2 separate regions of the Homo sapiens genome follow, and region 2 is linked to region 1. The links come from fine-mapping of genetic effects on gene expression. A gene starts in region 1. The other region holds a variant in brackets. All regions are shown on one strand. Distances are from middle to middle.

Region 1 (17,010 bases):
TGCCTCAGCCTCCAGAGTAGCTGGTATTACAGGCATGTGCCACCATGCCTAGCTAATTTTTATATTTTTAGTAGAGATGGGGTTTCGCCATGTTAGCCAGGCTGGTCTTGAACTCCTGGCCTCCAGCGATCAGCCCACCTTGGCCTCCCAAAGTGCTGGGATTACAGGCCATGAGCCACCTCTCCTGGCCATTATTTATTATTTTTTATGGATAGAAATATAAAGCATGTTGCTGGGCATGGTGGCTCACGCCTATAATCCCAGCACTTTGGGAGGCCAAGGCAGGAGGGCTGCTTGAGCCCAGGAGTTCAAGACCAGCCCTGGCAACATAGTGAGACCCTGTCCCTACAAAAAATAAAAAACAAATAAGCCAGGCATGGTGGCGCAGGCCTGTGGTCCCAGCTACTCAGGAAGCTGAGGTGAGAGAATTGCTAGAGCCTGGGAGGTCGAGATTGCAGTAAGCTGTATTTGTACCACTGCACTCCAGCCTGGGTGACAGAGTGAGACTCTGTCTCAAAAAGAAAAAAAAAGAAAAAAGAAAAAGAAAACAAAGAAAAAATAAATAAACCATGTTGATTTTTAGTTAAGAACATAAGAACATCTTTATAGGAAAGTTATTTGTTCTGTGCTATAGCTGATAATCTTGTTCTAACGACACATGGCTAGAACAAGAGTCAAAGAATCCCAGAGTTTAAAGGGCATATAATTTAATCTCCCAGCCCAAGAAGAAATTCCTTCAAACTGAGTCTTAGAATTATGCAAAATGGTTGTATTTGTTATTCACATTGTACCAGGCAATAATTCAAACCAGTTTGTTCACTAAGATCAAAGGATACTTCTGAGAAATAATTCTCAACAACTGCATCTTTGGACAATCATACGCAAATATGCATAATTATTAAGAATTCCTTTCTGCCTCAGAGACTCTTTGTTTACCACTTCTAGTACTGTATCTGTACTGACTTGCTAAGGACCACATTAACCTTTCTATGCCTCAATTTTTTCCAGCAGTAAGATGGAAGGTTTAGTCTAAGCTAGACAAATTCTATGCCAAAAGATTTGGGGGACAGAGATTGAATAGATTGGAAACAAACAGAAGTCTGGCTTTTTAAAAGGCCAGACTTTTTTTTCCTTTTTCTTTTTTTTGGGGGGACAGGGTCTTCCTCTGTGGCCTAGGCTGGAATGTAGTGGCGTGAACACGGCTAACTGCAGCTTCGACTCCCTGGGCTCAAGCGATCCTCCCACCTCAGCCTCTCCAGTAGCTGGGACTACCGGCTCACACCACCACGCCCCACTAAGTTTTGTATTTTTTGTAGAGATGGGGTTTTGCCATGTTGCCCAGGCTGGTCTTGAACTCCTAAGCTCAAGCGATCCACCCAAAGGCAAGATTTTTTTTTTTGCTGTTTTTATCTCATCTGGTCTTGAATACTTTGACAGCATTCCTTCTTAAAACTATATTTACAAGAAGTCTCCCTGGTTTCTATTAGCTATATTGCAATCACTCATTTATAATATCACCTTTCAGAAAAGTAAAAATTAAAATTCTGAGATCCTTAGGGGACTGGTGACATAAAAAGGCTAAGAGGAAAACCCATTTTACTACTCATCCTGAGTTCCTGATTGTAAGTGAAAAGAAGAGGTCTCATTACCTCTTAAAATAAATTATAAAACATCTGGAATTTATCAAATTAGTACATTAAATGACACAGGCAAAGTTCTTCTCATGCATTTTCTGCTTAGTGCAGAAATTATGAAGGAAGATCTGTTTCCTATTTTAAAAAAAATTTTTTTTGGCCGGGTGTGGTGGCTCACACCTGTAATTCCAGCACTTTGGGAGGCCGAGGTGGGTGGATCACTTGAGGTCAGGAGTTCGAGACCAGCCTGGCCAACATGGCGAAATCCCGTATCTACTAAAAATACAAAATTAGCCGGGTATGGTGGCACATGCCTGTAATCCCAGCTACTTGGGAAGCTGAGGCAGGAGAATTGCTTAAACCCAGGAGGTAGAGGTTGCAGTGAGCCAAGATCATGCCTCTGCACTCCAGCCTGGACAACAAAAGTGAAACTCCATCTCAAAACAAAAACAAAAAATAAAACCATATATTATATATATATATATATATATATTTTTTTTTTTTTTGAGACAAGGTCTCACTCCTAATGCCAGGCTGGAGTACAGTGGTGAAATCATGGTTCACTACAGCTTCAGCCTCCCAGGCTCAGGTGATCCTTCCACCTCAGCCTCCGGAGTAGCTGGGACTATAGATGTGTACAACCGCACCCAGCTAATTTTGTGTATTTTTAGTAGAGACAGGGTTTCACTATGTTGCCCAAGCTAGTCTCAAACTCCTGGCCTTAGGCAATCTGCCCGTGACGGCCTCCCAAAGTGCTGGGATTACAAGAGTGAGCCACTGCACCCGGCCTATAAAATATTTTCAAAGTTTAAAATTAATGTTTTGGGTTTTTCCTCATGTGTCTCTTTTAAAGAAGTTACTAAAAATACTGTTTTTTTTTTCAGGCAGAGACTTGCTCCACACTCATTACATTTGATATTAAAGAATTAAGAGAAAAACAAGGCCAGGCACAGTGGTTCACACCTGTAATACCAGTGCTTTGGGAGGCTGAGGCAGGAGGATAGCTCAAGGCCAGGAATTCAAGATCAGCCTGGGCAACAAACACGAGACACATATCCCTACCAAAAAAAAAAAAAAAAAATTATCCAGGTGTGGTGGTGTGCACCTGCGGTTCCAGCTACTCAGGAGGCTGAGACAGAAGGATGGCTTGAGCCCAAGAGTTTGAGGCTGCAGTGAACTATGGTCGGGCCACTGCATTATGGGCTAGGTGACAGAGCAAGACTCTGTCTCAAAAAAAAAAAAAAAAAAAAAGAGACAAACATAATGTTTATTCACCTTAAAAGGAGAGGAGCAAAGCACAGATAAGAAAGAAAAAGAAATCATTCTAACTATAAGGCTGAGTGCAGTGGCTCATGCCTGTAATCCCAGCACTTCGGGAGGCTGAGGCTGGCGGATCATTTGAGGCCAGGAGTTTGAGACCAACCTGGCCAACATGGTGAAACCCTGCCTCTACTAAAAATACAAAAAATTGGCCAGGCATGGTGGTGGGCACCTATATTCCCAGCTACTTGGGAGGCTGAGGCAGGAGAATCGCTTGAACCTGCGAGGTGGAGGTTGCAGTGAGCCGAGATCACACCAGTGTACTCCAGCCTGGGCCACAGAGCTAGACTGTTTCAAAAAAAAAAAAAATTCTAACTATAGATAAACTTTATTAACCTAATGGTGTAGAATACAGTGCTTCTACATTTCTAATGAGTAATTTTCCTTATTAGGAAATAATAACTTCAGATACTTCACCTTTGAGTGAAATTACAGAGAAATGCAAAGTTCAGCTAATGTTTTCTTCCAGCAAAATGATAAATGGCATTTCAAGCATGGTCTAGGGAAGACAAGTGCAAATATAATACAGCATCATATTAATCCAACTACTGAGGATGGGATCACAGGATTATCAGGGTTTGCTAAATAGGGAAGAGGATATTTATAGAGATCAGGGTTCTGCCTGAAAGGTACAAAGTAAGCTGATTTAAGAGGCTGGATGAAAGAGACCAGAATAAGTCTATTCTGTGCATCTATACATATATGCCCATATTTTATTTTAACTGTCAAATGAAGGGAGACAGCGATTAGAAGTTAAATTTATCATAGGGCTGAGTTTTGCAGTATAAATACAATGACATTAATTTTTAAAGTGCATTTTTTGGCCAAAATATCCATTCACGCAATTATCATTAAACACCCTTAATGTGCCCCAAGTACAACAGTGAGCAAAACGGGCATGATCTCTATGTAGGATTTATATTCCTGTGACATTAAATAAAACAATTTAAGAAACATGAACTTCAGTTAAAAGTATATTGTGTGTTACCAGCATGTGTGTATACAAGTTATCTACACCCTGGTGGGCAGAAGTGGTCTGACTCAACCACAAAACATTTAAACAAACTTTTCTACAGTCAAATCATGAATAGATGTGCTATGGACTACAGACGTTTTATCTGCCTCGAAATCAGCTTAAACTACTGGCAGAGGCATGGTGCCCTGACCTAAAACAATACAAACTAGGTCATTCAAAGAAACCAGAGTGGTGGAGGGAGAAGGAATGCGTTGGTATATGGAAAATATATGTGGTTGTGAGGACCAGCTAAAATTTGAATTCTGAAATTACGAAGCCAACAGTCAAGTACATACGGTCCCCATAACTAGCTTAAATATAACTGACTTCCATTTGTTTTTACGTCTTTCAACTGAACTCCTATCAGCTTAAAGCTCAAAATTGAGAACTTAATCCAAACTGTGTCTTCTTTCTCATCACCCTCTCCTAAATAAATACAAACAATGTTTCCTAAGGAACAAAGTCTGAGCATCTCCTCAGGAAGAGTGGGTTCCCACTTCACCAGAGTCCTAATGAAATGAATGTTATGGGCTTTAGAATTTCACAGACTTGTATTCAGCTTCTGTGTGTGTGTGTGTGTGTGTGTATATATATATATATATGTATGTATATGTATCTGTATATATATATGTATATATATGTATGTGTGTGTGTGTTTTTATATATATATATGTATATACATAACACTGCACACAGTTTCAGCTAGAAAATAGGAACAGGCCGGGCGCGGTGGCTCACGCCTGTAATCCCGGCACTTTGGGAGGCCGAGGCGGGCGGATCACGAGGTCAGGAGATACAGACCATCCTGGCTAACATGGTGAAACCCCGTCTCTACTAAAAACACACACACACAAAATTAGCCGGGCGTGGTGGCGGGCGCCCATAGTCCCATCTGCTGCGGAGGCTAAGGCAGGAGAATGGCGTGAACCCGGGAGGCGGAGCTTGCAGTGAACGGAGATCGCGCCACTGCACTCCAGTCTGGGTGACAGAGCAAGACTCCGTCTCAAAAAAAGAAAAAAAAAAGAAGAAAACAGGAACAATACTTACATCTCAAGAGATGATGCTATGAGGATGAAATGAGGTCATGTATGTAAAGCATGACACATAACAGCCACTGAAAAGACTACCCTCGTGTTTTGTTTATTTTTTTAAAATAATTTTTCACGGGCCATTTTCTAACCAGAAAACATAAGTAACTGTTGGGAACAATCTTCAAATGTTGAACATGCTTGAGAACGACCACAAGCTCCATATATGTAGAAAGTGCTCCATAAATAATTACTGAATGAAGGAATCATATGTTAAATATAAGTGGTTAGTTACGTGCTAAAATTACTGTCATTTTAGTATTTTAGTAATTCATCAAGAACCTGGCACTGTAAAGCAGGGGTAAAATAGCTGACTCTAAATGTTCAGAGAAACCCATATTTGGGTTTTTGCCACAGTTACCCAAATTTGAAAAAAAATATGTATTTGTCACAGCTGAAGTTTAAAACAAAAACCAAAAAAACCTTGGGGTTCACGCTTCAGTTGTACAGTTAACCATGGGGGCTCATGGGATACCAGATGGGATACACTTAAGTCACACGACTGACTAAATTCAGTGTTTCACTTCAAGTTTTAAGAACAGCTCACGCTTGTGGAGATAGAAAAAAAATGTTTTTGGGAAACCAGATAAAGAATCCGGAATAATTTGTCTTAATTTCTTATTGTTCATCTTAGGAAAAAGGAAAAAAGAAAAACAAAATCTGTTTTCATCATTGAACACAACAGTTGTATACAACAGTGTTGTATATACACTGTAAATTTGTTGTATACTGTGCCAATTTGCACCTGGAAACATGGGCAGTGGTTAATTTACTGTGGCCTGTAATTATAAATTAAACAATCATGGATTACACAGTACACTTAATTGATCAACAAACTGGGAAAAGTTAGCCAACTCTCATGCACTTCTCATCCATAATGATGAATCTCAATCTCTGTTGGTTCGGCATGCCCTTTTCATTCCAATTCTAGCTATTTTCTGGGTAAATATTTATGTTTGTACTCATTTGTTGAGAAAAACTTTAACTTTAAAAGGACAGCTCACGTATAAATGATTAAGAAAAAGAAACAGTTGTAAAAATCTGTTTAGCCTGAGGTTAAAAAAAAACTGCAAGTGTAGCAAGTGTGAAATGTGATTGGCAACTTCAGATCAAATAACCCTACTTCTTTAACAATCTGACAATGTAAAATCAATTGAGTTTTTTTTTTCCTTTCTAAATCTACTCACTGGATAATCTGACCAAACATACATCTATTTTTTTTTTTCCTGGGCATCTAGTTTTTTTGTTTTTTTTTTTACTTCTTAAATCAACAGAAATGGCTCAACATTTCTAAAAGTCAAGAAAGGAACTAGGAAGAGAGTTGGAGCAGTGACTATAAGTTTGATGACAGGCTCTTTGCAGCCAACTAACCTGCTTTAAGTGTTCAAAATCAATTTTTCTTTGATAGCTCTAAAATTACTCAATTCCATTTTAACTCCCTCCAACTAACTGTACAGACATTAACAAGAAACAGAGTGTCAACGGTCAGATCTGTCACAACCATAATTTAGAATTTGGGAAAGCTTTAATTGGGACTGACAGAGAAAAGCCTTGCCCCGGATTGAAGTTCGATCTCCATTTTTAACTTCTCGTTCTTTTCAGTTTGGAGAACTCAAGCTAGGATTAAGATCTTTTGGTCCTGGTATGGTCACACGCAAGAGGAGACTGCAAAAGGTTTCGAAGGAAATTCTAGAGACGGAGCAGCTAATATGTCTTCATCAACATGGATTATGTATTGAATGAAAAATCGGTCATCACCAACAATCAGATCCTGCAAAACTCTCAGCAAATAACTAAATAATTCGGGACTGAGGAAGCGCACCCGCCACGCAGACACCAAGACGGCGTAAAATCCACCAGGCATCCCTTCCAAGCGGCACCCCTTTGTGTCGTGGGACTTACTTCCCTACCCCCCAGGGGCCCGCACAGCGCGAGAAGGAGGAGAGCTAGGCTACCATCTCCCCTGCTACCGCCAGGGCGACCTCAGAGCCAATGGGGCCGGCCTTCTCTCCGCTTCTGGCCGGGCTCCAGACGAACCCCACTTTACTGCAAAGCCGCGAGACCGATTGCCCGGGAAGTCTAAGCCTGCTAGCGAAAGCTGCTCTCCGCAGTTCCTGGGATCCGCCCTCACCCCTGTCCCCAGAGTAATGATGGAGCCCGGGCTCCGCACCCGGCCAGCCGCGCACTCTGCCAGCCCCTTCCCCAAGCCTCGGACCCGCTGCAAGCCCCGCCTTCCTCTCCAGGCCCAGGCCTCCCTCCAGGGCCCACCCTCGGGTCTCCCCGCCGACCCCCGAAATCAGTCCACAACCCAGATAGCAGGCTGAGCGACGTCCCATTCCCTCCTTGGCTTTAAGCGCAGTGCTCCGCCCTGGGCCTGGGGACGGGAGGGGGATAACCGGCCGGCTCCAAGGGGGCCCAGGCCCCCACACTCACCATCCTCCCGCCGAGTCCCTCCTCCTCCTCCTCCTCCTGCTGCCTCCCCCGTTACCAGGGGCAACTGCTGCGGCGCCGCCCCCGACGTCCCTCGCACGCACAGCTGAGGAGCTGAGCAGCAATACGGGGCGGGGTGCAGCTCCGCTTTCCCCAGAGTGCGCAAGTGCGCTAAGGCGCCCGCCCACGCAGTGGGCGGGCTACGGGAGCTGCAGAGGCCGCCGCCGGCTCGCCTGGACCAGGGAGTGGAGAAAGCCTGCCCACGTGGCTGGCGGGAGCCTCCCGGCCTGGGATTGGTCGAAAAGGAGGGGCGTGGGGCGGGCGTGGGGGCAGTTCCCCAGCCCAGGTCCTCCTCTCACCCGGGCCAGTTTTCAAGGCGGGCTGTAACTGGTGGCATTTGTCCCGGGACCAGGTAAGGGGCCTTGGGACAATGGCGCTCGCCCTGTCTACCTCCAATCCCCACATCTCGGGTGGGTGCTGAGATTGCTGTCCTGACTGCCCAGGCGGGGCTGCAGCGCGGGCTGGACTTCCACCTGCAGAAGCCACGTGGCGCGAAGTGCGCCCTGGGGCTGCAGATGGGCCCCTCTGCTCTGACCCCCATTGCCTAGGAGTGCCAGGCCGAGCGGCTGGGGCGTTACGAGCTGTCCGGGATGGGGGAGTACCGATGGGGGGAGGCCGTCTGTCGGAGGGCAAGAAGCAGCCTGGGGGCTGGCCCTGAGCCCTGAGGTGAGCTGAAAGCACAGGTGAAAGGCGTTTTGGGGATCGGCCCGGTTTTTGTTTTGACACAGGGTGTCGCTCTGTCGCCCGGGCCGGAGTGCGGTGGCGCGATCTCGGCTCACTGCAGCCTTTGCCTCACAGGCTTAAGCGATTCTCCCGCCTCAGACTCTCGAGTAGCTGGGATTGCAGGCGGGCGCCACCACGCCTGGATAATTTTTTGTATTTTGTTTTTGTAGAGACGGAGTTTCGCCATGTTGCCCAGGCTGGGCTCGAACTCCTGGGGTCAAGCCATCCGCCCGCCTAGGCCTCCCAAAGTGCTGAGACTACAGGTGTTCCAAAGTGGTGAGCCACTGTGCCCAGCCTCTGGCCGGTTTTGCTAAGCTGCTTTGGACAGGACCGCGTACCATCTGTAGTCCTGGAGGAGGCAAAAATGAGCCTGCATTTTTAGCCAAGGAAGAGCAAGTGGGACACTGGGGTGGGTTGGGAAGTGCTACCTCCCATCCCTTTCCCGATGCAGAGGACTATAAGAAGAGTTTACACAAACGTGCTAGGCCCTGTTCTAGACGCTGGAGACACAGCAGTGGACAAAATCAGCCCGTATGGAAATTACATCCTTCCTAATGAAATACATTTCATACCAAATTTCATTTTCACAACCCCTAGAAATTGGTAATTGCGGCCAGGCGCAGTGGCTCATGCCTATAATCCCAGCACTTTGAGAGGTGGAAGGGGAGGAAGGCTTGAGCCCAGGAGTTGGAGACCAGCCCGGGCAACACAGTAGGACCCTGCCTCTACAAAAAAAAATTTTTTTTAATTAGCCAGGTTCCGTGGCGCACTTGTAGTCCTAGCTACTCGGGAGGTTGAGGCTGGAGGATTGCTTGAGCCCAGGAGCTATTATCACATCACTGTACTCCAGCCTGGGTGAAAGAGCAAGACCCTGCCTCAAAAAAAAAAAAAAAAATGAAAACAAAAATCAACATCTGCTGCTTGCATACCTGCTTCAGATCCTTGGAGAGAAAAAGCAGTTCAGAGCCTTGACTAAGGAGGTGATGAATGGAGGTGATACAGGAGCACAAACCCCTATAATCTACTCATCTCCAGACTGTTGGCCCTTTTGTGAAAAAGGCAAGGGAGGTTGCTCTTTCTAAGTTGTCTGGTGCCTAACAGCCCACTTGCCTTGGAGTCAGACGAGTACCCATAAGCCTATACCTGGGCCTGCTCTTGTAATTATTACCCTCATTTTCCAGCTTGCTCTAGGCAGCCTTGACCTTAATCCTTGCCTGTCTCAGTGGTCTTTGTGTCTGACCTTCTGGGGTCTTTGGCTACCTTGATCTTCCTCTGATGTGAGTACCAGCGATGATGTTTCGTTTTTCTCCCTACCTGGGGCTACAAACAGTAATCTTGTGCACTTCTGCTTGTAAGAGGATACCTCAGAAGGAATTTGGAAGCTTGTTTTCTGATCTCTGATACCATTTGCCAGAGAAAATCTGCTCTTTCTGGGAAGGATGAGCATTACGTCAGAGGTGGCAGTAGTCTATTACTTTTTTTTTCTCTTTGTTTCCCTCTCTTTCTTTCCTTTTTTTTTTTTTTTTTTTTTTTGAGATGGAGTTTCACTCTTATTGCCCAGGCTGGAGTGCAACGGTGCGATCTCGGCTCATCACAACCTCCACCTCTCGGGTTCAAACGATTCTCCTGCCTTAGCCTCCCAAGTAGCTGGGATTACAGGTATGCACCACCACGCCTGGCTAATTTTTTATTTTTAGTAGAGACGGGGGTTTCTCCATGTTGGTCAGGCTGGTCTTGAACTCTCAACCTCAGGTGATCTCTCTGCTTTGGGCTCTCAAAGTGTTGGGATTACAGGTGTGAGCCACCGTGCCAGGCCTCGGAGTTGGCAAGTAGGCTATAGTGGATAGAGGACCTTGGGGAAGTAAGGCCTTAGCTGTTGTCCAATCTTTGAGGACTGGATCTGTTGATTGTTCGTGTTTATATCTGCTGCAAGCGCTTAGTGCAGGGCCAAGTGTATCAAAAATGCCCACTGTGGTGGCCCAATCCATGTGCACCTTTCTAGGCTTCAGTTTCCTCTTCTGTAAACTGAGATCTTAGATCACATGTCTTCAGGCTATGACATTCTCTCTCTCTTTTTTTTTTTTTTTTTTTTTTGTGGAGACGGAGTCTCGCTCTGTCACCCAGACTGGAGTGCAGTGGTGCGATCTTGGCTCACTACAACCTCCGCCTCCCGGGTTCAAGCGATCCTCCTTCCTCAGCTTCCTGAGTAGCTAGGATTACAGGTGCGTGCCACCACGCCTGGCTAATTTTTTGTATTTTTAGTAGAGACAGAGTTTCACAGGGTTAGCCAGGATGGTCTCGATCTGACCTCGTGATCCGTCCGCCTCGGCCTCCTAAATTGCTGGGATTACAGGCGTGAGCCACTGCGCCCGGCCTCAAGCTGTGACATTCTCTAATCCTAGGAGGGAGATATCATTAAATCACTGGTCTGATTTTTACTCCTACTTTGTTCCTAGTAGTGGGACCATACAGAAGTGGGGCTACCCTGGACATGATGATGACCTTTTTAGGGAAGACTAGATGTGGCTTGTGTGGGAGGAGGGACAGTAACTGTAGAAGAAAATTTAGAGACCAGTATGACTTAGTACAGGCAAGGTAGACAGTTTTGCAACTTCATGAAAGAAAGCGTGCTCTTAATTCTGTAACCTAGGCAGGTTCTAAGTTTGACTTAAAAGAGGTGACATCCTTGATGCCAAGAGACCCAAGAAGAAGTTGGAATGCATTTCAGGTAAGCAGTAAATATTCTTCGAGGGCATGTGAAACATGTAGCAGTAAACATCACAGACATGATCCCGATGCTTGTGAGCCTTACAGTCTGTCAGGGGAGGCAGACTTTACACAAATCACAGTCAATGACAAGAAGGTGACAATCACAAACGCCCAGCATGCTGCAAAGGACAGGATGCTGTAGGAGTATATATCACAGAAGGATTTGAGTTTGTCCTGAAGGAGTCGGGGAAGAGTGCCCATTGGGGGACAGTGGGTGTGTGGGGGGAAATGTTCCAGACAGATCGTTTAGTGTTTTTTTTGTTTTGTTTTTGTTTTGGCTTTATGTTTTATTTAAGACAGGGACTCTGCAGTTTCTATCCTGACTTCAATTAAGAAGGCAAAGGCTCTTGCATAATTAGCAAATGTTTAGATTACCCCTTGATGATAGTCCCTCCATTCTGAGAAGCAGAGGACTTTGCAATGTTGTGTTAAGGTGAACAGAGATGTCAGAGAAGGTCTGGCTCTGTGTGTATGTGTGTGCTGAGGGGGAGGCATAGCATTTTGCTCAGTCAGGCTGTCTCCAGCATGTATGAGCCTGGGGCTCTGTAAGCCAAGGCAGCGTGTGTTCAGCCAGCCAAGCTGACTCCTTTTAGGTTCATGTAGAGCATGGGAAAGTGAACTCTTTCCCCTCCTCCCACTCTTGCTTCAGCTGGGACTGAGATAAATGCCTTTGGTCTTTGAAGCAGCCTGCAGGAGGCCAGGTGGCAGGGAGAGGGGAAGTCTGTTTTGGCAGTGGACTCTTTCTGTCTGCCTTCTGACTTCTCTGGAGATTGCCGCTTCAGAGAAGCATCGGGGCCAGGCCAGGGCGCTGTGGATACTCCATATTGAGCCTCTCCTCTTGTTCCTGGTCTTTCCTCTTAGGAAATGGCGTACCTCCAGCATATCAGCTTCCTGATGTCTCTTCCGCCTTAACGAAAAATCTAAAAATTGACCACTGCTCTTCCTTCCCCAACACTGTCCCTTCTGCCTCCTTTCTTGAACTTGAACTCCTGGCCTCCCAAAGTGCTGGGATTACAGGCCTGTGCCTGTCTCCACCTCCTTTCTCTCTTCTTTCTGGTGGTTCTTCCCATCTTTGGGGGCTTCCTTTTCTCGGCTTCTTTTTTTTTTTTTTTTTTTTTTTTGAGACAGGGTCTTGCTATGTTGCCAAGATGGAGTGCAGTGGCGCCATCTCGGCTCGCTGCAACCTTCACCTCCCGGGTTCAAGTGATTCTCCTGCCTCAGCCTCCCAAGTAGCTGGGATTACAGGCGCCTGCCACCACGCCCGGCTAATTTTTTGTATTTTTAGTAGAGACAGGGTTTCACCATGTTAGCCAGGCTGGTCTCAAACTCCTGACCTCGTGATCCGCCCGCCTCAGCCTTCCAAAGCACTGGGGTTACAGGCATGAGCCACCGTGCCCGGCCTCAGCTTCTTTTTTTTTGAGACAGAGTCTCACTCTGTTGCCCAGGCTGGAGTACAGTGGCACAATCTCGGCTCACTGCAACCTCCGCCTCCTGGGTTCAATCAATTCTTGTGCCTCAGCCTCCTGAATAGCTAGGATGATAGGTGCCTGCCACCACGCCCAGCTAATTTTTGTATTTTTTTTTTTTATTAGAGATGGGGTTTCACCATCTTGGCCAGCCTGGTCTCAAACCCCTGACCTCAGGTGATCCACCCGCCTCGGCCTCCCAAAGTGCTGGGATTACAGGTGTGAGCCACTGTGCCCGGCCTTGGCTTCTTAAATGTCCTGATTTTTCAGGGTTTGTCCTCAGCTCTCTCCTCTTCCCATTCTGTGTGTTCTCACTGGAAAACTTTATCGTAAATCACCTCGATGCTGCTGACTCAGTTTTTTCCTTCTAGCTCTGACCTCTGTTTCCTTTCAAGCCTGAATACCCACAGGCTGATGAACTTCTTATTCAGCAAATACTTGAATATTGTGCTAGGCACTGGGGTGACAGTCGTGAGCAAAATGAACATACCACCTCACTTCACAGGTGAATTATTTAACTTAGCTAAGGTGCTATTTCCAAGAAAAAAACAAAATGACCTAGTAGTAGAAGCTATAGAAGTAAATCTGAAAATTATTTGTACAAAAAAATAAAAGGACAAATAGGTACTATTTAGTGAAGAGAGGAAAGACTAGCTTTTGAGTATTGTGTTTGGAAAGGACCTGAGACAGGAAGAGGCCTATTGCATTTAAGAAAATCCCGGCCGGGCTTGGTGGCTCACGCCTGTAATCCCAACACTTGGGGAGGCCGACGCGGGTAATGGGTCACGAGGTCAGGAGATCGAGACCATCCTGGCTAACACGGTGAAACCGCGTCTCTACTAAAAATACAAACAATTAGCTGGGTGTGGTGGCACGCACCTGTAATCCCAGCTACTCAGGAGGCTGAGGCAGGAGAATTGCTTGAACCCAGGAGGTGGACGTTGCAGTGAGCCGAGATCGCACCACTGCACTCCAGTCTGGGTGACAGAGCAAGACTCCCTCTCAAAAAAAAAAAAAAAAAAAAAAAAAACCCATGGCAGGACCGGGGCTGGTAGCTCACTCCTGTAATCCCAGCACTTTGGGAGGCTGAGGCAGGTAGATCCCTTGAGCTCAGGAGTTGAGACCAGCCTAGCAACATAGGGAGACCCTGTCTCTACAAAAAATACAAAAACTAGCCGGGCATGTTGGCACATGCCTGTGGTCCCAGCTACTTGAGAGGCTAAGGTCAGAGGATCGTTTGAGCCTGGGAGGTGGAGGCTGGAGTAGTGAGCCATGATCATACCACTGTACTCCCACCTGGGCAACAGAGCAAGACCCTGTCTCAAAAAAAAAAAAAAATCCCATGGTATTTGAAACTTAACATGCAGAAATCAAGCTTACTATTAATATTTTCTCCCTCAAAGCCAATTTTTCTGTGCTCTCCCTGTTAGCACCTATCGCCCAAGTCAGAAACCCTAGGTATCACTCTGGATATTTGTCATGTGTCAACTTGGCTAAGCTAAGCAAGACTCCCGGGATTCCCTCTCTGGTATATTCCAGTTATAGTGGCTACCCAGGAGCACACACACACCATCTTCCAGCTCTTCAGACAAACAGTAATCTAGGTGCTGCTGTGAGGGGATTTTGCAGACCTAATTAAATTCCTCAATTGTTTGGCTTTAAGTTAATCAAAAGGGAGATTATCCTGGGTGGCCTGACCTAATCAGGTGGAAGCCCTTTAAAGGAGGGCTAGAACACCCCTGAACCCCCTCTGAGGTTCTGGACTCTGAGCCATTACCCGCGTTGCTCCCTCTCCCCTGGGATGGTCTGTTGCTGGCCGCCTGCCCTGCTGACTTCAGGATTGCCTAGCCAACAGCCACAGTTATGTGAGCCAATTCGCTAATTCCTTGTGATAAATCAATTTCTATATTTTATCAATATTATATTACGTCAGCATTATATATATTTAGGCCAGGAGTGGTGCATGCCTGTAATCCCAGCACTTAGGGAGGATGAGATGGGAGGATTCCTTGAGCCCAGGAGTTTGAGATTACAGTGAGCTATGATTGCACCACTCCACTCTACCCTGGGCAACCAGCTGAGACCCTGCCTAAAAAAAGAAGAAAAAATTATAAAATCTATATAGATAGATCAACATATATTTATAACATATAAAGTTATATATTTATATATGATTTTATATAGCTATATGAATTATTTATGTTTATATATTATTTTTATATGTTATATTTAAACGTAATTCATGTCTATATAAATAAATGTATATATAAATTTATATATTATAAATATATGTTGCTATATCTATAAATTTAAAAAATTATATATTTATATAGTTATATAATTTATATATTTAGAAAATATATATTATAGTATACAAATATATTTTAGAAATATATAAAATATGTATATGTGTGTGTCATAGCCAGGTGCAGTGGCACACACCTGTAATCCTGGCACTTTGGGAGGCCAAGGCAGGCAGATTGCTTGAGCTCAGGAGTTAGAGGAACTCCATGTTGCCCCATGTTATGTTTTGGTATCTACCTGTCTGTCTGTCTGTAATCTACTGATTCTGCTTCTCTGGTTGAACCTTGACTGATAAAATGTTCCTCTTATACCTATTGCTTAGCAGACCTTAACATTCCGCTTCTTTGAAAGATTCTCTCCTGTTGGTCTCTCCTCTGAGTGCACGTGGGTTCATTTGAGCCCTACCTCTTCTTGCCTGGATTACTGGGGTTCTCGTCCAGCTGGTCTCCCTGCATCCCGTGAGGTCCATCCACATCCTGTTTATTCTCATGACTACCCAGTTTGTTCTTAGTAAACTACATATCTGATCTTGTCACTCTTCTTCTTAAAGTCTTTCAATGACTCCCTGAAGCTTTCAGGCAAACATTTAAAAGCGTCAGCTTTTTTTGTATGACTCCATTTTCTCTCCTCTCTTAGCATATCAATTATACTTCTTTTGAAAACCTTTTTAGTGGTTGCCCAGGAGTCTGCAATGTACATTTATGACTAATCCAAATCCACTTTCAAATAACACTATACCACTGCATGGAGTGTGCAAGTACCTTAGAATGGAGTCCTCCCAATTCTCCCCTCCTGTCCTTGATATTACTGCTGTCATGGATTTCTCTGATCCATAAACTGTAATCACCAAATACATTGTTGCTACTATTGTTTTAAACAAACGTATCTGTTTGTTAACTGTTAACAGTTCAGAATAAGAGAAATAAAGATTTTTATTTGTTTGTTTGTTAGTGTTTTTTCCCAGACAGGGTCTCACTCTGTCGTGCAGGCTGGAGTGCAGTGGCACGATCACAGTTCACTGCAGGCTTAGCCTTAGCCTCCCAGACTCAAGCAGTCCCCGCACCTCAGCCTCCCAAGTAGCTGGGACCACAGGCACATGCAACCACGCCTGGCTATGTTTTTTTCTTTTTTAATTTTTATAGAGACAGGGTCTCACTCTGTTGCCCAGACTGGTCTCAAACTCCTGGGCTCAAGCGATGCTCCTGCCTTGGCCTGCCAAAGTGCTGGGATTATAGGTGTGAACCATCCCACCTGACCAGAAGAACTTCTTTTAACATCTTGTAAGTCAGGTCTGCCAGTGACAAATTTCCTGTTTTGTTTGTCCAAGAAAGTCCTTTTTTTTTTTTTTTTTTTTTTTTGAGACAGGGTCTTACTCTGTCACCCAGGCTGGAGTGCAGTGGCTTGATCTTGGCTCACTGCAGCCTCCGCCTCCTGGGCTCAAGCATTCCTCCCACATCAGCCTCCCCAGTAGCTGGGACTGCAGGTGTGCACCACCACACCTGGCTAATTTTTCTATTTTTTGGTAGAAAAAAAAATACAAAATGAGGTTTCACCATGTTGGCCAGGCTGGTCTCAAACTTTTGACCTCAGGTGGTCCACCGGCCTTGGCCTCCAAAGTGCTGAGATTACAGATGTGAGCTACCATGCCTGGCCGACTAGAAAGTTTTGTTTTTTTTTTTTGACAGAGTCTCACTCTGTCACCCAGGCTTGAGTGCAGTGGCGTGATCTCGGCTCACTGCAACCTCTGCTGCCCAGGTACAAGCGATTCTCCTGCCTCAGCCTCCCGAATTGCTGAGATAACGGGCACCTGCCACTGCGCCCGGCTAATTTTTGTATTTTTAGTAGAGATGGGGTTTCACCGTCTTGGTCAGGCTGGTCTCAAACTCCCGACCTCAGGTGATCCAACCGCCTCGGCCTCCCAAAGTGTTGGGATTACAGGTGTGAGCCACTGCGCCTGGCCCCAACTAGAAATGTTTTAAGGGATATAAAGCAGTTAGTACTTGAGATGATTCTTCTGTAAGATATGGGATAGGTGGAAATGGGTAACGACTAACAGAATCAGATGGTATGCATCCCCAAATAGTAATTCCAATGATCTAGGAAGACCAACATTCCCACACCATCCCTACCACCACAGACTCAGTGTTTCTCAATGAGAGACAGAATTTGTGTATGGAGGATCTGAGTCCAAGCCCTTCTAT
Region 2 (13,395 bases), 21 kb after region 1:
ATGGGGAGGGCTGCTGGGCTGAGCCTCTGAAGGGCCCTGGGATTGGCAGCTCCCATGGTGATGGCCCCGGGAGTGGTGGGTGACTTTGGGTTAGGCCGTGTGTTGAGTCCCGTGGGAGTCCTCTCCTGGGTGATGTGGGATGGGAAAGACAGGGTGGACCTGTGGAGTTTTACACTGGATCATGTCCTTTTGGACCTGTGTTAAAATTGTGAACTCCTCCTACTTCCCAAGCCCTGGGGATGGCATACAGAATGAAATGTAGCAGGCTGAGGTGTCTAAAGATAGCATAGAACCCAGAAGCTTTGAAAGAAGCCAGAGGAGTAGACAGAAGTTTTCCAGGCACCCAACTCTAAGCTTTTCAGGAGAAAAGGTAAAGGAGAAACTCATTGTGTCTCACAGTTCTTATTTCTTGACTAGAGAAATCTCTGTTATGAGGTTTTAATGATGTAATATATGTAAAGCACTCAAAATAGCACCTGGAACATAAGAGATGCTACATAAGTGTTCACTGTTATTTCTACCATTGTCATCATCATCAATATCTACAAGCCACATTTTCTTGGGACTACCAACAAATGGAAAATGTTCACACTAGTCTTTGTAGAGGAAGCACTACCAGAATAGTTGTGCACACATGCTGCTCCATTCATCTTTCCTTCCCCATCCAGTGGCCCTTTCCTAACAGGAGAATGAGTCCCTGCCACCTACCGGGGCTTGAGTTGAGTGCTGTCAAGAACTGGCCTGAGAAGAACAGCTGGGGTGGGCTGGGTGCGGTGGCTCACGCCTGTAATCCCAGCACTTTGGGATGCTGAGGCAGGAGGATCACCTGAGGCCAGGAGTTTGAGACCAGCCTGGCCAACATGGCAAAACCCCATCTCTACTAAAAATACAAAAATTAGGGCCAGGCGTGGTAGCTCACGCCTGTAATCCCAGCACTTTGGGAGGCTGAGGTGGGCGGATCACGAGGTCAGGAGATCGAGACCATCCTGGCTAACACGGTGAAACCCCGTCTCTACTAAAAAATACAAAAAATTAGCCAGGTATGGTGGCGGGTGCCTGTAGTCCCGGCAACTTGGGAGGCTGAGGCAGGAGAATGTTGTGAACCCGGGAGGCGGAGCTTGTAGTGAGCCAAGATCGCACCACTGCACTCCAGCCTGGGTGACAGAGTGAGACTCCATCACAAAAAAAAAACCAAAAAACAAAAACAAAAATTAGCCGGGCATGGTGGCGCATGCCTGTAATTCTAGCTACTGGGGAGGTTGAGGCAGGAGAATCGCTTGAACCCAGGAGATGGAGGTTGCAGTGAGCCAAGATCATGCCACTACACTCCAGCCTGGGTGACAGAGTGCGATTGTCTCAAAAAAAAAAAAAAAAAAAAAAGGAATAGCTAGAGTAGCTACTGTTTGTGGAGTGATCACACTGTGTGTCAGGTGCTGGACCAAGTATTTCATAGCCATTATCTCATTTAATCCTTACCAGGTCCTGTAAAGTGGGTGCCAGGATGATCCCCATTTTGCAGATAAGCAAAACTGAGGCTTTGGGAGGGTTAAAGACTGTGCTCAAGGTCACACACATCCCCTGCAGTTTCAGGACTCAACCCAGACAGTCCGGGCCCAGGGCCACCGCTCTCAGCCACTGCCCTAGATCACTCCTAAGATACTGCTTATTGGAGTGCAGAAGGAAGGTCAAAGGCCCAGGCTACAGGAGGTGGCTTCCTGGAGCTTAAGTGGCCTGGCCTTGGTCCCCTGGCATGTCATGTGGCTGGCAGGCTTCCATCACCCCTTTCCCAAGTCCATTAACTCCTGTCTGTGTTTAGGGAGCTCATAAAGGGAATCTGCGTGAAGGACAGGAATGAAAATGAGATTGGTCATTCCCGGGTGAGCAGAGGCCTCCCTTTGGGGTGGGAGGAGGGAATTCCCTCTCATACCCTGTCCCCTCCTTAGTGGTCAGAGTAGGCACCAATATAGGATTGAGAAGCCTTTTCTGGCTCCATCCTCACTCCCTATCAAATTTTCCCCATGTTTCTCTGTTCAGAACAGGCCCCTTCTCTCTTTTCTCCATCATTTCTGGTCCATAAAAACCTGGCTAGGTGGGAGGGGATAAAGTGAGGTCACTCAGCAACTGGAGGGTCCTTCCCTTCCCCTTTACCATCTCAGACTTGGCCATGATGCTGACCCAGCCCCCTGGTGCAGCACATGTACACTGGATACATCATTTCTGACAACTTACTATTTTCTGCCCTCAGAGAGCTGCGGCCATAGGCATCACCCAAGTAGTTATTTCTCGGATCACCATGTCAGCTCCTGGGATGAGTAAGATGGGGAAGCCCTTCCATCCTGGGGAAGCCTGTGACACAGGGTGGAGGTCTCAGCCACACTCAGCTTTTGGGTGGGAGGTGGGGCCCACCTTCTACAGCCATGCTTCTCAAACTGCTTTGCTTGATTGCTGTAAGCCTAGAAGAACCACACTAGTTCCTAGAACATCAGTTCATCCAAGGTTTGGGGTAGAAAGTTATTTTCATTTTATTAATACTTGTCAAGCCCTTGTGTTTAATGTTAGACACAGTGTGGGGTGCTAGGGAGAGTGATAGAGAAAATAAATTCCCTGCTTTGGTTTGCTTCCAGCAGTGGGTGTATTGCAAAATTTGTTTGCACGAACGTACAAATACATTTTTGAGTTTTGAGAAGGTAGCTTTGGACCTAGCAGCACATGTTTTCCTGATATTGCAAGTGTGCAGGTTGAGAAGCTTGGGAAGCACTGTTCTGCCAGGACTTTGGGGAGAAAGTTTGGGGGTGGTCATGCCTACTTGCTCTTCTGTTCTGCCTAGTGGTAAGTATTTTCTGGAGCTTCTGCTGAAGGAGAGGGAACCACTTGGTTCCTGGTCTGACTTCAGAAGGAGTCCTGGGGAGAGCCTCCCAGCCCTCCCCTCAGCTTCTCCCTGGTCTCTTCCAGTCTTGCTGCCAGTCATCATGGAAAGGCTTGAGAAATTGCACTTCATGCAGGTATGTAGGGTTTGCTTTGGCATTTTCCCTGCCCAGAGTGCGTCCAGCCACATCTGTCCCTAGGGATACCTGACCTGCCCTCCCCCACCCATCCTTCCCTTTAGCTACCATGCTGTCATCTCACTCAAGCCCACACCAATCTCCACTGACCTCCTGTTTAGATATACCATGGCCAGTTTCCTTACCTGGTCTGCAGAGAACAAGGCCTTCTTTAAGGGCCAGGGGGTCCTTGCCTGTGGGTTTTTCTTTTTTCTTTTGAGATGGAGTCTCGCTCTGTCGCCCAGGCTGGAGTGCAGTGGCGCGATCTTGGCTCACTGCAAGCTCCGCTTCCTGGGTTCATGCCATTCTCCTGCCTCAGCCTCCCGAGCAGCTGGGACTACAGGTGCCTGCCACCACGCCCAGCTATTTTTTTTGTATTTTTAGTAGAGACGGGTTTTCACTGTGTTAGCCAGGATGGTCTCGATCTCCTGACCTTGTGATCTGCCCATCTCGGTCTCCCAAAGTGCTGGGATTACAGGCATGAGCCACTGCGCCCAGCCACCTGTGGGCTTTTCTAGCTGGCTGATCCATGGCAGAGCAGGGTTGGGGTTCACCTTAAGGCATAGAAGTACCATGTGGATCTGTCTTTTATTTGTTTTTATACAGAAAGTCAAGGTCCTGCACGCCCCATTGCAGGTCATGCTGAGCGGGTGCTTGTAAGTATCATATTTTGATGATTTGGGTTCTGCGTGGCTGGAGCACTCAAGATGTGTCGTCTTGTCTAGCCCGTGTTGGAGAACGTGTACTCCTTTACCTGACTTTAAAAGTGGTCAAGCTCAGAATACCTGTGGTCCATCTGGAAAGCTCTCACCCCATCTTTTGTGAGGGCATCAGGCTGGCTAGACTTTATGCACGTGTCCATGTAGGAAGTCCAGTGCTGAGGTGCCCTCCCATCCCAGGGTCTCTCCTTTGACCTTAAGTCTGGAGCAATTTTTTTGTTTTTTGCTTTTTTTTTTTTGAGATGGAGTCTCGCTCTGTCGCCCAGTCTGGAGTGCAATGGCGCAGCCTCAGCTCGCTGCAACCTCCACCTCCCAGGTTCAAGCAATGCTCCTGCCTCAGCCTCCTGAGTAGCTGGGATTACAGGCACGCACCATGATGCCTTGCTAATTTTTGTATTTCATCATGTTGGCCAGGCTGGTCTCGAACTCCTGACCTCAAGTGATCCACCTGCCTCGGCCTCCCAAATTGCTGGGATTATAGGCATGAGCCACTGCGCCTGGCTGTCTGGAGCAGTTTTACAGAAGAGATAAGAACGAGGAGACATAGCTTTGGCTGGGACTGTCATGTGTCCCAGACTCACACAGGAGGGAAATGCCACCAGTCACGTCAGGGTTCTTAGGTATCTGCCATTAACTGGAGATGTCCTAGCGTTCACCATGCATTTCAGGGCCACGAGACTAATGACAGCATCACTAACAGCTAACACTGACTGTATATTTTCTCTGTGTCCCCACTGAACCCAGTGTTTCATATCTATAATTTCACTTAATTCTCCCAGCCTTAGAAATCTACATATTATTATCATCTCCTTTTACAAATGAAGAAACTGAGACTTAGACAGAGTAAGAAACTTGCCCAAGGGTATATAGCTGGTAACTGCTGGAGCTGAGATTTGATCAACAGTCTAACATTATGCTATACCAACTTCTGCTAATTGAGTAGTTACCATGGGCTGGGTGCTTTACATACATATCTCATTGAATCCTCACAGTAACCCTGCAAAGTAGGCACTGCAAAGTGGTCTGCAGTAGCCCTAAAAAGTAGGTTGTCCTCCCTCTGTGTCTCTGAGGTAACTTGTCCAAGATGGCACAGCTAGTAAGTGGTAAAACTGGGATACCAACCCAGGTCTGTCAGAGTCCCGCGTCCTGTAAGACCTTGCCTCCCAAACCCTGGTCCATGCCAGCATCGTTGGCATCCTCTGATAACTTGTTAGAAGTAAAGACTCTGAAGTCCTTCCCCAGACCCCCTCAGTTGGCACCTGGCATTTTAATAAGCTCCTGAAGTTATATGCACAGTGAAGCTGGAGAAACTGCCTTTCACTGTGCTCTGACAGCCCAGGTGTTCAACCAATAAAGAAGCAGGTCTCAGAATCCACAGACTCACTCCTCCCCCTCCATAGTGCCCCTCCCCCACTCCAAAGTGCCCCTCCCCATCCTGGTCACTCCTCCCGATACAAGTCAATCCTCCCCCTCCAAGTTGCTCCTCTCCCTCCTCATCCCTCCTCCCCTCTGTGTCCTTCCTCCCTCTCCATGTTGCTCCTCCCCTCCATGTCCTTCTCCCTCTCCATGTTGCTCCTCCCTGTCCAAGTAGTTCTTCCTACTCCAAGTAGTTCCTTCCCTCCAAGTCACTCCTCCCCCTTCAAGTCGCTCCTCCCCATCCAAGTTGCTCCTCAACCTCCAAGTCATTCTTCCCTCTCCAAGTCGCTCCCCACCCTCCATGCTGTTCCTCCAAGTTGCTCCTGTCCCTCCATGTCGCTCCTCCCCCTCCATGTCCCTCCTCTCCCTCCATGATGCTCCTCCCCTCCATGTCGCTCTTCCCCCTCCATGTTGCTCCTCCCCCTCCAAGTTTCTCCTCTCCCTCCTCGTCGCTCCTTTCGCTCGATGCCAGCAGTGCCTGTGCTCCTTAGGCCTGCTGCTCACAGTCCCTGTTTACTTCATTGTCTTCTTCCTCTGCTTGAACAATGCAGTAAGGGTGGGAATGAGTGATGGGGGTCAGGAGGGTACTGGTTTTATCCCCCTGCCAGAATGAGTATCCTCGCACTGCGGGAACAGGAGGAGGGTTGGAGGGAGAGGATATGGTGCCAGCTGGGAAGGCAGGCCAGGTGCCTGGGCATTGCTCCTTTCCCTTGGGGATGGGGGATGGACGGGCCTGTGGGGAGATGTCCCCTGATGCTTTGGTTTCTCCTTTCTTGCAGCCTCATCTTCATGGTGCCAGTGGCGTGTGGGCTTTTCCCACAGAAATGGTATCTGCTGTTCATTCCTTACTTGGTTTAATTGACCATGCTGCCAGCGCGCTCCCTGATCTGCCTGCTGTCCAGAAGGAGACAGGGAAGGGGCAGGAAGGGCAGCACCTGTCTGAGGACAAGTGTCCATCAGCCTAAAGGCTGGGCCTCTTAACCCTGGTGAATTCTGACAAACGAAAACAGATCTGCGAGGGGCAGGAGAAGCCAGGGACAGGAATAAGGTTGCTCCCTCCCAGTGGAGCAAGCACTGCCTTGAAGAGAAGGTGGGGGAGCAACAACAGACTTTCTCTTCCTGCCAGCTGGGTTATTAGGAAGCTCTCCTCTGGCTGGATCTGGTTTTTAACTTTTTTTTTTTTCTTTTTTTTGAGATGGAGTTTCACTCTTGTTGTCTAGGCTGGAGTGCAGTGGCACGATCTCGGCTCACCACAGCCTCCGCCTCCCAGTTCAAGTGATTCTCCTGCCTCAGCCTCCAGAGTAGCTGGGATTACAGGTGCCTGCCACCATGCCCAGCTCATTTTTTTTTTTTTTTTTGAGATGGAGTTTCACTCCGTCGCCAGGCTGGGGTGCAGAGGTGCAGTCTCGGCTCACTGCAACCTCCGACTCCCTGAACGATTCTCCTGCCTCAGCCTCACGAGTAGCTGGGATTATAGGCACGTGCCACCACGCACAGCTAATTTTTGTATTTTTAGTAGAGACGGGGTTTCACCATGTTGGCCAGGATGGTCTCAATCTCCTCACCTTGTGATCCGCCCGCCTCAGCCTCCCAAAGTGCTGGCACTACAGGCGTGAGCCACCGCGCCTGGCCTCATTTTGTATTTTTAGTAGAGATGGGGTTTCACCATGTTGGCCATGGTTGGTCTTGAAATCCTGACCTCAGGTGATCTGCCCGCCTCAGCCTCCCAAAGTATTGGGATTACAGGCGTGAGCCACCGTTCCCCGTTGGTCGTTAACATTAAATAAGGGGGCTGGTCGTGGTGGCTCACGCCTGTAACCCCAGCACTTTGGGAGGCCGAGGTGGGCAGATCACCTGAGGTCGAGAGTTCAAGACCAGCCTGACCAACATGGAGAAACCCCGTCTCTACTAAAAATACAAAATTATCTGGGTGTGGTGGTGCATGCCTGTAATCCCAGCTACTTGGGAAGCTGAAGCAGGAGAATTGCTTGAACCTGGGAAGTGGAGGTTGCGGTGAGCCGAGATTGCACCACTGCACTCCAGCCTGGGCAACAAGAGTGAAACTCCATCTCAATAAATAAGTAAATAAATAAATAAATAAATAAAGGGACAGGCAGAGGGCTGACAACCGAAACCCCTCTATTTCCTTTGTGTGTCCAAGAAGGAGGAAGCAGGGAGAAGGGATGATGGAAAAGGGAAGGGATACATCAGACTAGGGGGTGGAGGGTGACTGACCCCAGGAGACAAGTGTAGCTTGAATATATACCCAGACAATTCCAGTCTCCCCTTCCTCAGTACTCTAGTTCAATACTACTTCCATGGTCATCTGCTAGACATCTCTTGTGTCCCAAGCACTGTGTTTGTAATCTTGTGGAGAAGATGGAAGTTGAAACGAAGAACCATAGCCCAAGGAGAATGAAGTCAGGCCTGCGTAATGGTAAAGCAACATTGTGGTATACAGAGGCCAATAATAATCCTAGATGGAAAAATCAGGAGGGCTTCTTGGAGGTGATATTCATCTGAGGGTAACTTACTGCTTGTTCCTGGTGGCATGCTCATAATCCACTTCTCTCTTTTCAGTGAATTGCCAGTTTCCTATCTGGAACCGAAGCTCCAAGACACTATCAAGGCCAAGTATGGAGAACTTGAGCCTTATGTCTACTTCAATAAGGGTCTCTAAATGCCCCACTTCAGCAAGGACCAGTCTATTCCCATATTCACCAGCTCCTCCTTAGCTACGTGCACACTTGTGTCCTCCTTCCCCTTTGCCAACAAGGCCTGAAGGCCAGGGTAGATTGGGGGGTGGGACAATGAATGCCTCATACTTACACCCTGGTACTGGTTGATTGGACCTCAGGGGAAAAAAGTGAAAAAGGGTAGCAAAGGCCAATGTCTTCTAGCTGCTTCCTCAACCCCTGTCCCCTGGAGACCAGAAGCTGAGGCCCTCTCAGGGAGGAGACATCCAAGCAAATCATTTGGAAAAGTTAGGAAACCTTTAGGATTCTGGTTCCAGCCAGGGTTGAGGAAAAGACCTTGGATCAAAAGGAAGCTTCTATACCTCTTTCTTCTTCGCTTCCTCCTCTCCCAAGCAATGGAAACTTTTACCCATGTAATTCTAGCTGAACTCAGGAAAAAGAAGGGGGAAAGGACTCTGTCCCCTTGGGGCTCATCACCCTTCCACATCCTCCTCCTCGTTGCCCCCTGGTCAGGCAGCTTCTTTTTTTTTTTTTTCAAGATGGAGTCTTGCTCTGTCGCCCAGGCTGGAATGCAGTGGCGCGATCTCGGCTCACTGCAAACTCTGCCTCCTGGATTCAAGCGATTCTCCTGCCTCAGCCTCTCAAGTAGCTGGGATTACAGGGCACCTGCCACCACGCCTGGCTAATTTTTGTATTTTAGTGGAGACGGGGTTTCACCATGCTGGCCAGACTGGTCTCGAACTCCTGACCTCAGGTGATCCGCCCGCCTCAGCCTCTGAAATTGCTGGGATTACAGGCATGAGCCACCACACCCAGCCCGGACAGCTTCTTTGGGAGTGCTGCTAACCTTGAAATTATCAGACACTTAGGAGTTATTAGTGCTAAAAAGGGGACCGTGCAAGGCAGCAGAGTTACATGGTTCTTCAAATCATGTCTGAACCTATTCTTGGAATCTTCTCTATAATAAGGGAAGTTCTCTTACCCCACTGCCACATACCTCTGTTTTAAAAGATAAGTCCACTAACTGTGAGTAAAAATGATATATATAGGCATTAACCACACACTTTAATGGGTATAATTTCCTGGCTGCCTCCCTTCCTCAGCCCATTAGGTTAAACACCAAAGAAAGACTGGTGTGTACTGAATAGGAAAGGGAAGTTTTATTTGGAACCTTCTAAGAGGAAATCAACCAGGACCAAAGAGCCTTAAAGGACACACAGCAATGCACAGCCACTTCCCTTCCCCAGCTTGGCTGCCCTAGGTGATTTCTCAAGCTCCTTGGGGGACTGTTGTTTCTCATCTGGAATCAATGTGTGTATGAGTTTTGTCTGGTAGGATTGCTGACTCTGTCCAACAGATATCACTGTGAATTGAATAAATTTGTTGAAAGAGCACACAGGCACACATACACACAAACTGTAAACTAAGTTAATGAAGCCTGAATGGAAAGCAGGATCTGGCCTTACTTTGGCCTTGGCATGTCAGAAGGTATCACAACTACTATATAAGGGGAACTTGTCTGATGCCTGGAGGCTGTTGTTTATTTCCCTCATTAAAGGGGAAATCCACCTGTCTCCACAGGAAGCTCCAGATCTCCCAGAATGGGAGCTGTGTTGCCCTAGAGCAAGAGTTGGCAAGCTATGGCTCAAGGGGCCAAATCCACCTGCCACCTGTTTTTGTGCAATTGGAAGCTAAG[A/T]ATGTTTTTACATTTTTAAAGAGTTGTAAAAGGGAACAACAGGAATGACAGAGACCCTACCTATGTGGCATACAAAGCCTAAAATATTTACTGTCTGATCCTTGACACAAAAAGTTTCCCCTGCCCTGGAGCAGTGGTTCTTAAGCACATGCATCAACCGGGCGCAGTGGCTCATGCCTGTAATCCCCACACTTTGGGAGGCCGAGGCAGGTGGATCACCTGAGGTCAGGAGTTCGAGACCAGCCTGATCAACATGGTGAAACCCGATCTCTACTAAAAATACAAAAAATTTGCTGGGTGTGGTGGCATACACCTGTAATCCCAGCTACTCGGGGGGCTGAGACTGGAGAATCACTTGAACCTGGGAGGTGGAGGTTGTGGTGAGCCAAGATTGCGCCACTGCACTCCAACCTGGGCGACTCCGTCTCAAAAAAAAAAAAGAAAACACATCAGAATTAGCTGGCAGGCTTGTTAAAGCACAGATTGCAGGATCCATTGCCAGATTCTGTCACTCTGGGCTGGAGCCTGAGAACGTGCATTTCTAGTCATTGCCCGGTGATGCTGATTCTGTTGGTCTTGGCACCATACGTGGAGGAGCACTGCTCTAAGGGGAAAGGGCCTCCTCCCCGAGGCCAAGGAATTCACTGCAACTTGATTTTTCTCCCCGTTTAAAAAAGTTAAAATATAACTCACATACCATAAACTTAGTCCTTTTAAAGTGTACAATTCAGTGGTTTTTAATGTAGTCACAAAGTTGTACAAGCATCACCACTAATTCCAGAATTATTTTGAGACAGGATCTCACTCTGTTACCCTGGTTGGAGTGCAGTAGTGCAATCACTGCTCATTGCAGCCTCAACCTCCTGAGCTCAAGTAATCCTCCTGCCTCAGCCTCTGGGGTAGCTGGGACCACAGGCTAATTTGATTTTTTTGATGAGGTCTCACTATGTTGCCCCAGGCTGGTCTCGAACTCATGGCCTCAAGTGATCCTCCTCCCTCAGCCTTCCAAAGTGTTGGAATTACACACATGAGCCACTGCATCTGGTCTCAGAACATTTTTCTTAGCCCCAAAAGAAACCCCATACCCATTGGCAGTCACTCCACATTCTCCCTACCTGCCAGCGCCTCACAATTCACTTCCTGTCTTTAGAGATTTGCGTATTCTGAACATTTCATGTAAGTGGAGTAATGCAGTATGTGGCCCTCTGTGTCTGGTTTCTTTCCTTAGGATAATGTTTTCAAGGTTCATCCATGTTGTAGCATATGCAATTTGATTTTAGCTGGTGTCTGAACAGAAAAGTCTGTCTTTGAGCTAGCTTCTTTAGGACAGGAGACCTGGCTTTATTTCCAAAAGCAAATAGGAAAAGGGAAACATTACCAGAGCCAGTAGAGCTTGGAAACAACTCCTGACTGATGTTCTTTCAGAACATACAATGTTTCCCCTTCCTTCTCAGCTCCTCAAGCCTCTTGGATTTCCTGTTCTCTTATAGACAACTGCTCTTTTGGAAATGTCTGGAAGGTATGTGGTGGCTATAATGTTCAGGGACATTCTAAAAAGTGGTCACTCAAACTGCATCTCAGTCTCATTTTGTAACATCTCTCTTCTTTGAGTTGGCTGCTGTGGGATGTTGAATAAGAGGCAGTTAAGGTTACTAAAAGGCCTTGGTGTGGGAAGTGCTAATCCAGACTGTCCTATCCAATAGCTCAGCTTGAGCTTTCAGGTAAAAGGAGAAAGGGAAGTTGGGGCAAAATCCCCTGTGTTTGCCAAACTGAATTGGGGTTTCTTATTTATTGAGAGAAAGAGGGTATCACTTTCTTGCCCAGGCTGGAGTGCAATGGTATGATCATGACTCATTGCTTCCTCAGCCTCCTGGACTCAAGTGATCCTCCTGCCTTAGCCTCCCGAGTAGCTTCTTTTTCCTGAGTTCGGCTAGAATAGCATGGGTAAAAGGTTCCATTGCTCGGGAGAGGAGGAGGAAGGGAAGAAGAAGAGGTATAGAAGCTTCCTTTTGATCCAAGGTCTTTTCCTCAATCCTGGCTAGAACCAGAATCCTAAAGGTTTCCTGACTACAGGTACATGCCACCATGCCCAGCTAATTTTTAAATTTTTTGTAGACAGAGGGCCTCACTATGTTTCCCAGGTTGGTCTTGAACCCCTGACCTCAAGCAATCCTCATGCCTTGGCCTCCCAAAGTGTTGGGATTACAGGCGTGAGCCACTACATCCCACCTGGGGTTTCTTAGTGATGATGAAACCTAGCCTTTATGTGGAAGACTTACAACTTTTTGAGGCCAGGAATTAGAGACCTTGTGCCATGAAAATAATTTGGTCCTTCCCTAGTACTCAATTTTTACTTCTCCTCTAAGGAGCTTGACTTGTGGAATGGATAAATTTCTAAGAAACGAGAGATTGGCAAAAATACGTGTCACTTTTTATAGTACTTGGAAAAGCAGGATCAAGATAAAGGCAGAACTATGGACTTTCTTAAGCTGAGGGAAGACTGACTTAACTCTTACCTGTTTCCCATTTTTCCAACACTTAAGCCAAGAACAACTTCCTCTGGGCTCAGATGTGGGCTAGACTGGGCCAGGCTGTAAAACACTTTGACAGGTTTTTGAGAGGAAATTGACTGCTAAAGTCAACTGTGTTATTTGCCATGGGTCTTCCTTTGTCCATTTATTTTACCAACTTTTTTTTTTCTTTTTTTTTTGAGACAGAGTCTCACTCTGTCACCTAGGGTGGAGTGCAGTGGCACAGTCTTGGCTCACTGCAACCTCTGCCTCCCAGGTTCAAGCGATTCTTCTGCTTTAGCCTCCTGAGTAGCTGGGACTACAGGCATGCACCACCACGCCTGGCTAATTTTTTGTATTTTTAGTAGAGATTGGGTTTCACAATGTTGGCCAGGCTCGAACTCCTGACCATGTGATCCGCCCACCTCGGCCTCCCAAAGTGCTGGGATTACAGGCAGGAGCCACCGCACCTGGCCTTTTTTTTTTTTTGAGACAGGGTCTCACTCTGTTGCCCAGGCTGGAGTACAGTGGCACAATCAAGGCTCATTGCAGCTTCAATCTCCCTAGCTCTGGTGATTGTCCCACCTCAGCCTCCCAAGTAGCTGGGACTACAAGTGTGCACCACCATGCTTGGCTAATTTGGCTAATTTAGTTTTTTTATTTTTGTAGAGACAGGGTTCTCTCCATGTTGCCCAGGCTGGTTTCAAACTCCTGAGCTCAAGGGATCTACCTGCCTCAGCCTCCCAAAGGGCTAGGATTATAAGCATGAGCCACCACACCTGGCTATTTTACCAACATTGATCAAGCTCTGGTTGAGCCTTGTACAGGATATTATAGGCTTTAAAAGAAGAAGAAGAAAGACCTGGTATGCTGTACAAAAAACTGCAAACCAGGCACGCAGATATAAGTGTTACAAGAATCCAGAAGAAGCAGCAAGGAGATGGGGCTAGGAGTTTGTAAGCAGGGAACTGTATCTGTAATATGTAAATGAAGTTACTGGGCATCTCTTCAATGGTCAGTGTGAGTGGAATGTGTGGGAAAATGTAGTGGTGAGAGGTGAGATAAAGAGAAGTAGACAGGGACGAAGTCACAGAGAGGACCGTGTTGGGAAGTTTGGACTCTCTATTCTGTAGGTAGATGAAGTATTTAAAAGAAGAGGCCATGATATAGTAATATTTGGTTTAATGTGGTATGGTTGTAGTGTGTGGCGGAAATTTGAGAGGAAGAATTGTCAACTTGCAGGGCAGCAGGGAAGCCATTTGTATTTAGCTAGAAGAACATGGATTGAAGCAATGGATGATGGATTTCAGAGCAATT

Evidence for each region.
Region 2: its variant is fine-mapped to the expression of SFXN2 in tibial nerve (GTEx, PIP above 0.99).

Annotation. Positions count from the first base shown.
Region 1 is chr10:102,706,783-102,723,792 of GRCh38, forward strand. It overlaps SFXN2 (sideroflexin 2), which reads left to right and starts at 7,854. Exons shown (of 12, transcript NM_178858.6): 1 at 7,854-7,899. It overlaps ARL3 (ARF like GTPase 3), which reads right to left and starts at 7,615. Exons shown (of 6, transcript NM_004311.4): 1 at 7,491-7,615. The coding sequence starts at 7,493. RefSeq lists silencers at 7,275-7,374, 7,415-7,464, 7,532-7,926, 7,745-7,894 and enhancers at 7,680-8,256, 8,257-8,832.
Region 2 is chr10:102,729,907-102,743,301 of GRCh38, forward strand. SFXN2 (sideroflexin 2) reads left to right here. Exons shown (of 12, transcript NM_178858.6): 7 at 1,817-1,877; 8 at 2,246-2,312; 9 at 2,953-3,002; 10 at 3,648-3,697; 11 at 5,956-6,003; 12 at 7,757-13,395. The coding sequence ends at 7,856. Among named protein-coding and RNA genes, the nearest start is that of WBP1L, 7.3 kb to the right of the region's middle. RefSeq lists an enhancer at 1-414. The variant A/T (reference allele first, on the strand shown) is at 9,569.